Linked DNA regions of Homo sapiens: all the other regions are linked to region 2. The links come from fine-mapping of genetic effects on gene expression. A gene starts in region 2. Each other region holds a variant in brackets. All regions are shown on one strand. Distances are from middle to middle.

Region 1 (2,844 bases), 380 kb after region 2:
GGGTACACCTTGACTTTGTAATAGTATCCCTGACTGTTCTGTTAAATTTCAAAATGAGAAAACTCTTTTTCGTCTATTGACAGATAATGTGCACCCAAATTAAGTGTGAGTGGGGGTCTGACTGTATGTCTAAAGTGTACAGGCAGAGATGAATGTGTGTGGCTTTAGCAGATCCACACTCATCCAGGGATAACTGGACCATGGGGGCAGGGTGGGAGTGGAGAGAAGTCATCATAGGATGGTAATCAGGTGCTTGCAGGGAGAAGAGAAGGAAAAGCAGATGAGTGAACAAGGGCAGATGGTGCTGGAGAATTCCATCAAGTGGGCATCAAGAAGGGACTGGAGGTTAAAACCTTTGGGATAAAGAAGAAGAAAAAAAGACAAGCTGGTAAAAAGTAAGGTCTGGGGGGTGGAGGCAAGAAGGGGAGTTGCTAAAAACTCTAGAATAAGCAGTAAGACATCTTTCAATAAAACTGCCCCTTCCCAGATGGCACCTGGGCACTGTTTGCTGGGCACAAACATGGCACTGTTTCCTAGGAGATGATTCCTCCAGTTCTTTAAGGTAGTAATGAATGACAACAAGAAGTTACTTCTCTATGCTACACACGGTGTAGAATCCAGAGCCTGACTGGCTGTGACGCGCCCATGGTGACACCAAGGGGACTCTGCATGGGCACATCCCGGCCCTCCTCCCTGCATGTTCTCCAAGCCAGGTCTTTGAAACCTCCAGTGATGGTAGGTGTTAACTCCTACATGTGGGTGGTTGGCTAGTGACCCCAAAGAGCCTCTGAGAAACTTGGAATTCCCCTTCTCTTTCCAGGGAATGACAGAATCTGGGATGATTTTCTTCTGTTTCTTATCTAAAAAAACAACAAAAAGCTCAGCATACACGGACTCACACAAACCTTTTGCTAGAGGCAGCTCTGTAGACTTAAGACGCTGTCATTTTTCAGAAGAACCCAGCTTGCTTTGGAACTACAGTCAGCCCTGCAACCCACCCTCACCTTGGACCCTGCTGCTGCTGTCTGTAAAGGTGAGTGAGATAATACCTGCTGCTCAGCTCAGGTCCCTCTGTCCAACAACCTGGGTCTGCTGTTGGGAACAAAGAACAGGAGAACAAAGAAAAACTCCCAGCGGCCTTACGGACCACACGGCTTTGCAGCAGACTCAGC[C/T]GAACAGTTGTCGAAACACCTGTCACCAGTATGTGGTTTTTAATGATGAGCTGTCGCTGCATTTCTGAGTTGCTCTAGTTCTTACTTATGTTATTGCATGTGTTATATCATTTAAAAATGCCACTTAGCTCATTTTGAAATGGAAGATTACATTTTGATCAGTTCTGGGACCTATTTTAGTGGCATATTTTCATGATCTGTAGGAATGTTATTTTGTTCGTGATCTTTTTTCTTATAATAACTTTATATGGACTTTGATGTGCATGCTTTTCTGTTATTCGATTTCATGCAAAATTAATTTCCTAAACTTTTGGAAGAAGCTATGATGCAGAGTGGCTTTGCTAACTTGCTAGAGCTCCCTCTTCAAGGAGTGTTTTGTGAAGTGTTAAAAAATATAGTGATGTCCTTGCTGAGATTTTGTGGCTCTGTTCATCTCCTCTATTTTCATGTGGATCTTCTCTTTTCTTCACCTCCATTGTCCTGCAAGGTGGGGCCCTGTCCTTAGAGGGAGGCAGGTCAATTTTGAGAATTCACGGAGAGTTGACTGCCTCTGGTCCTTCATATCTTACTGGGGACCCCTTGCACTCACTAGCCATTGGATTGTGTAAAGCACTCTCTTTCAGGTGCTAAATTAAAACTGACCCATATACTTTCCAACCAATGCCTACTGGATATTTTGGGGGTCTCCTGTTTTCAGGTTTATTATGTGTCCCATTGTTTTTCTCTGCTCTCCTCTGCACCAATGCTAGTGCAGGTCTTGTGGCTACTAAGGTTTTGTCCCCAAGTGTATGTTGATGTTGTGGGGCTAGCTTAACACCCAACATTTTTTTCCAATTGAGGTATAATCTACAAACAACAAAATGTACAAATCTTAAGTGTTATGTTGAGTGAGTTTTGGCAATGTGTGCACTCACCTTGTCACCTGATTTTGAGATAAATATTGTCCACAGTTTTTTTTTAAATAGAGATAAAATTCACATAGCAAAATTCACCATGTTAACCATTTAAAAGTGTATAATTCTGTGGTTATTAGTATATTCACAAATTTGTGCAATCATTACAACTATTTAAATCCAGAGCATTTCTATCATCCCAAAGAGAAAACCCATACTCCCTATTGCCCCCCCAGCCCCTGGCCACCACTAATCTGCTTCTGTCTCTATGGATTTGCCTAATGAGGACATTTCATGTAAATGGAATCACACAATATGTGGCCTTCTGTGTCTGGCTTCTTTCACTTAGCATAATGTTTTAAAAACTCATCCATGTTGTGGCATGTATCAGCACTACATTCCTTTACTTGGCTGAATAATATTCCATTGTAAACATATACCACATTTTATTTATCCATTCATCAGTTGATGGGCATTTGTCCCCCTGCCCCCTCACTTTTGGGCTCTTATAAATAATGCTGCTATGAACATTTGTGTACACATTTTTGTGGGAATGTATATTTCATCTCTCTTGGGTATATACCTGGGAGTGGAATTACTAGGTATATGGTAACTATATCCTCTTGAGAAACTATCAGACTGTTTTGCTAAACTGGTGGCACTACTTTACATTCCAATCAGCAGGCTATGAAGGTTCCAGTTTCTCCTCATCATGCCAACCCTTGTAATTATCGATCTTTTAAATTAGAGCCATTCTAGTGGTATGAAACAGAGTATCA
Region 2 (2,500 bases):
TGCATCAGCTGATCCCTGCCGCCATCACCACAGGTGGTTCTCCCTGTGCGTCTCTTCTGTGTCTCTTCTCTTACAACGACACCAGTCTCAGTGGATTAGGGGCCCGCCCTACTCCAGCATGACCTTAACTCATTACATCTGCAACGGCCCTACTTCCAAATAAGATCACATTCTGATGAACTTTAACATATTGTTGGGGGTGGAGAGGGCATAAGTAACCCTTAACATCCATCGAGGCCCAAGGGAATGTGTGTTCTTTGACTGCCTAGACCCCCTAGAGGCGGAATTAAATATTCTTTTTTTTTTCTTTGAGACAGAGTCTCACTCTGTCCACTCAGGTTGGAGTGCCCATCTCGGCTCACTGCAACCTCCGCCTCCCGGGTTCAAGCGATTCTCCTGCCTCAGCATCCCGAGTAGCTGCGGCTACAGGCGCCTGCCACCACGCCCGGCTAATTTTTGTATTTTTAGTAGAGACGGGGGTTTTGCCATGTTGGCCAGGCTGGTCTCGAACTCCCGACCTCAGGTGATCCGTCTACCTCGGCCTCCCAAAGTGCTGGGATTACAGGCGTGAGTCGCCGCGCCCCGCCCTCAAGTCATATTTTATAGATGAGAACATTAGGATTGGAGACGCAGGGCCGAGACACAGGGCCTTGCATATACTAAAAACCTCAATGGGCACCCGAAGTCATCATAGGAAAATTTCCCTATGCTCCATGTTCACGTGTTTCAAAGTATCCCTGATCTGGCTAATTCAACTCCATTCCCTCGAGAAAACCCAATCTGGAGCCCCGGTCCTAGAGATCCTGGGATGTACTGCGCGTCCCACTCTGTATCTCCGCCCCCTCAGGCGTTCTCCCTCTAGAAGCAGCACACAAAGCGGTTACTCCCTGCGGCCGGGAGCGCGCGGGCTGCCCTTCCGCGCGCCACCCCCGCGCGCGCCGCTCCCCCACTGATTGGCTGAGCGCATCCCGAGCCCAGCCTGCTCCCGCCGCGGCGCCGGTCCTGGCGCCGGGATTGGCGGAGTGGCCGCGCGCGCAGATCCCGCAGCCCCGCGCGCCCCGCCCCGCCGGCTCGGAACTCGCCTGGGGCGCCGCCGGCGGCGGAGGGAGCGTGACTGCGCTGCGCAGGGCGCTAGGAGGCATTGTCGCCGTAAGTGGAGCCAAAAGCGGCCCGGAGCGGGACCACACGCTTCTTGCCCCGCAAAGTAAATGTAGTCCGAGGTCAAGCGTTGCAGGGGCTGGGGGAGAGAGGGCGAGAAGTGTTCCGATTTTTGCAGCGTCCCCTCCCCTCCCCCAGGTCACCCGGTGGAAAAGAGCAGCGGTGCACCAGCGGAGGCTCTGGCGGTGCCAAGGGGCTCGGCATGCGCGGGCTCTTGCTTGCTCACTGCACCTGGACCCCGATGGTTCAGGGGAGTGGGTGCAGAGGTGCCAGGGAATAGGGAGCTCGGAGAACCGCTCCCAGGCGGGCCTCCATTCCTCGCGGGAGGCGCCCTTGCTTGGAGAGGCTGCTGTGCATTTCGTCCCCGAAGCGACACTTTCGGGGTTTGCTTCCGCTCTGGGGAGCTGCAGACGCCTGCTCCAGAGCGTGCCTCTCGGCCTCCGGGCAGCGTGGGAGCCCCGGGGCCTCTGCGATCACTACCATTCTTCCCTCTGCCAGCTTTATTCTCCCAGTCCCCGCCTGCCGGGCCAGCGGACGAGGTGCCATTGGCTGCAGGCACCGGGGGTGAGGCGGATCCTGGCACGCGGGGCTGGGGGACCCTTGCCTGGCTACCGCGCGTAGTGCTGGAGGCTCAGTCCGAGGATGCCTAGATGTTAGCGAGGGAGCACGCGCTGAGCTTCCCGAACCCCATGCCACAAAAACAAGGCGCCAGCAGGTCCCGCTCACGTCCCAGCGGGCTTCTTTCCCTGGGGTGGGGAAGTGGGTCAACTTCGTTCTGATCTGAAGGGGGGTTTGGGACTATTTGGGTCGCTCCTCACCTCCCCACCCGCTCCCCGGCTTGGCATGGTCCAGAGCCCGGGCTGGAGCCAGCGGTAGGGCCAGCTTGCACACATGGCTCCGGAGGCTCCGGTTGCCCATCCGAGCCCCTGCCAGGCTCTAACGTTCCCAACTGACAACACCAGTAACTAAATATAGGAGCAGATGGTGGGGACGGGCTGTCGCAGCGGCTCCTTTGCAGAGGTCTCCGGACTGCAGATAAGGTAGAGTTATTGATGGTAAGGGCTGGAGTCAGGGGGCCAGGTCAGGGTTTAAGCAAAAATCACCCCTCCCCCAGCCAGCCTGAGTCCAGGTGAAACCAGGTTATAGGGACAGGAGGGCTGTATTGCCAGCTCCCCCAAAGCAGGACAACGTTTTTGTCTGGCATTGAATTTATTACATCCAAACTTCCTCTCTACACCTGTTTGATTACCTACTGGTAATGCCTTGGTGTGGGAAACATGTAATGGTTCGCAAAGTCCTTTCCCAAAAGTTACATATCAGTTACTTCCCACAATAATCCGGT
Region 3 (2,844 bases), 83 kb after region 2:
CAACCTCCATCTATTTATTGCTTCCTGAGAACTGACCTGGATGCGGCCCTCTGCAGGGCCCAGTCTTCAGTCCTGTGGTCCCTGGACTGGTGGGAACCTGAACTAGGAGTCCTGGGAGAGCTGTGGTGGGAATATGGGCTGGCACTGCTGCAGGGCAAGAACATTCATGTAGGAGCCCGAGGACCAGCAGGCTGGGAATGGGGAGCAAGTCACGTCAGCTCTGTCATTCCCCACAGTTAACAAATTGGCGGGGTGGGAAGTCCTGAGTGCTCCGTCCCTCTAGCATCACTCCTGAGCTGCGGGAGAGGTGGCCCAGAGAACAGCAGAGTCAGTTACACCTGCAGCTCTTGTCTAAAGTGATTAGATGGCCACCCTCACCACTGTCCAGTCCAGCAGCAGCCTGGCTGCCTTGTCATGGCCTCCTGGGGGCAGAAGGCGATGTGGACCACGGGATTTGTAGCCAGCCAGCTCCCAGGCCAACGCCCAAAGCCCTGATGACCTGGTTCTTCTGAGGCCCTCAACCTGGCATCTTAGGGTATGGTCAGGCAACAGGGTGACCAGCTGTCCTGGTTTCCCAGGACATGGAACTTTCAATGCTAAAACTGGGACAGTACCCAGCAAGTGGGGATGGTTGGTCCCCTACCAGGAGAGGGCCTGGGGCTCTTGCTTCCCGAGAACGCCTGTGGCTTGAAGAACCTTGACTGCTTGGTCCTCAGGTATCTACCTCCCACCTTCTCCTCATCTGTGGAGCAAGCCAACTCAGTGCCCCAGACCCCACCTGATCTGCATCTTTGTTTGCATCTCCAGAGACACCTGAGGCCCCAGAGCTTGAGGCAAAGCCAGGCCGTCCAAATCCTGTGTGCCGTGGACGAGTGGCCACTTTACTACTCCTAAGGCTAAGATGTTGAGAGCTCAGACCACTGCTCAGAGCAGTAATCCCTGCTCAGAATGCTCCCAGTTCCCTCGTCCCTGCCCAGGTCTCTTGTCTCTTGGGAAGGAACTGATAGGTCGGGCCATTGTTGGGCCATCACTGAGCGCTCAGTATCTCAAGAGACTCTGTTCATTCTGCTCGTATCCCAAGGCCTGGTTGGTCAAACTCTGGGCAAAGGGTTTTCAGGATGAGGAGGTCAAGACAGGAT[C/G]TCCAGAGCTACCGAGTTCATCTGTGGGTGTTGGGGGCAAGTGGGGGCTGAAGTCCTGTGCAGGCTGCGCTGGCCCCACCTGCCTTGTGCCCTGGAGTGGGGTTTCTCCTTGTTGAAGAAGAGGCATCCTTCTCTGATGTGCACAAACACAATGTATGACCAGAGCCTTGCAACTCAAAGTGTGGTCTGTGGACCAGCAGCGGCAGTGACACCTGGGAGCTTGTTAGGAATGCAGAGTCTAGGCCTCACCCTATACCTCCCGACTCAGACCCTGCATTTTAGCAAGACCCCCAGCTGATTCCTATAAGCACTTTAGAGTTTGAGAAGCAAGGACCTAGGCTGGGGATGTCCTCCGAGCAGAGGGTGAAGTTTCTCTCAGTTCTCTCCCTGCCACTTCCAGGGATCTGAGCCTGTGCTCAGCCTCCTCCCTAACCCACCCTGGGAGACACTTGGCCTGTTAGATTGTTCCAGAGTCTGCATGGCACTCCTGAAGAAGGGAGTGTGACCTGCAGTCACCAGGAGATGAGGGTTAGGTGTGCCCAGCCCTCCAGACCCGGCCTTTCTGGTTAACCCCTGCATGCCAAGCTGCCTGCTGCCCCAGGTCCTCACCTCAGGCCTTTGAAGGGGCAGCTTCTGGAAGTTGTTTTCTCCTCTGCTTGGAGAGTTTGCCCTTGTCTGTCTTGGAAAGTGTGGGCAGCCACAGATGCCCCCAAATCAGAGCTCACAGTGAGTGAGCCCCTAAGCTTCAGTCTGCAATAAAGAATGCATTGGTTTCATCTGCCTGGTTGGTGTTTGATTCATTCTCACTGTACAGACCTCCTATAGCCTGGGCGTCAAACCAGCCCACATGCAAGAGGGGTGCCCTCTTGTTGAAAGCACGAGGTAAAGAAGGCTAGAACGGGATGAAACGTGGATTATTCACAGGTGGGCACAGGTGCAGCCAAGCAGAATTGGTGCGTGCCCCCCAGCTGCGTTACTGCAGGATGGCTAAACATCAGGGGGAGACTGTGTATCTGGGAAAGGATGAAGAGACCCACTATCTCCACATTTCTCTCTTACCAGTGCCAGAAATTATTCCCTTAGTAATTTGTTCCTCTGAGTCCATGGTTCTCAAAGAGGGATCTCTGGGCCAGCAGCATCCGCAGCACCAGGAAGTTAGTTAGAAATGCGAATAGTTGACTCCACCCTAGATGTGCAGAATCTGAAACTCGGGGATGGGGCCCAGCACTCTTAACAAGCACTCCATGTGGTTCCGATGCCTGCTGAAGTTAGAGAACTACTGCTCTGGGTTCAATGTTAAAGTCAGGTTTTGCTTTTCTTAAGTCTGAGAGGCCAGCTTAAGTTTGCCTTGAGTTTTAGTCCAGATGCTCCATTGTTTCTAATTATTATTATTATTATTACTATTTGAGACGGAGTTTCACTATTGTTGCCCAGGCTGGAGTGCAATGGCGTGATCTCGGCTCACTGCAACCTCTACCTCCCAGTTCAAGAGATTCTCTTGCCTCAGCCTCCCAAGTAGCTGGGATTATAGGCGCCCACCACCATGCCTGGCTAATTTTGTATTTTTAGTAGAAATGGAGTTTCGCTATGTTTGTCAGGCTGGTCTTGAACTCCTGACCTCAGGTGATTCACCTACCCCGGCCTCCCAAAGTGCTGGGATTACAGGCATGAGCCCACTCCCAGCCGATCCATTATTCCTTTTATT

What was found. PIP is the estimated chance that this variant, and not a neighbour inherited with it, causes the effect.
Region 1: its variant is fine-mapped to the expression of LRRC20 in fibroblasts (GTEx, PIP above 0.99).
Region 3: its variant is fine-mapped to the expression of LRRC20 in whole blood (TOPMed, PIP above 0.99). The same link has a PIP of 0.9 or more in prefrontal cortex.

Annotation. Positions count from the first base shown.
Region 1 is chr10:70,005,646-70,008,489 of GRCh38, reverse strand. It overlaps LINC02636 (long intergenic non-protein coding RNA 2636), which reads left to right. Exons shown (of 5, transcript NR_184066.1): 1 at 1-735; 2 at 821-1,033. Among named protein-coding and RNA genes, the nearest start is that of LINC02636, 2.3 kb to the left of the region's middle. The variant C/T (reference allele first, on the strand shown) is at 1,173.
Region 2 is chr10:70,381,198-70,383,697 of GRCh38, reverse strand. LRRC20 (leucine rich repeat containing 20) reads left to right here and starts at 1,073. Exons shown (of 5, transcript NM_001278212.2): 1 at 1,073-1,149. RefSeq lists enhancers at 569-668, 1,199-1,398, 1,243-1,862 and a silencer at 799-1,168.
Region 3 is chr10:70,298,046-70,300,889 of GRCh38, reverse strand. LRRC20 (leucine rich repeat containing 20) reads left to right here. Exons shown (of 5, transcript NM_001278212.2): 5 at 1-1,915. Among named protein-coding and RNA genes, the nearest start is that of NPFFR1, 15 kb to the right of the region's middle. The variant C/G (reference allele first, on the strand shown) is at 1,140.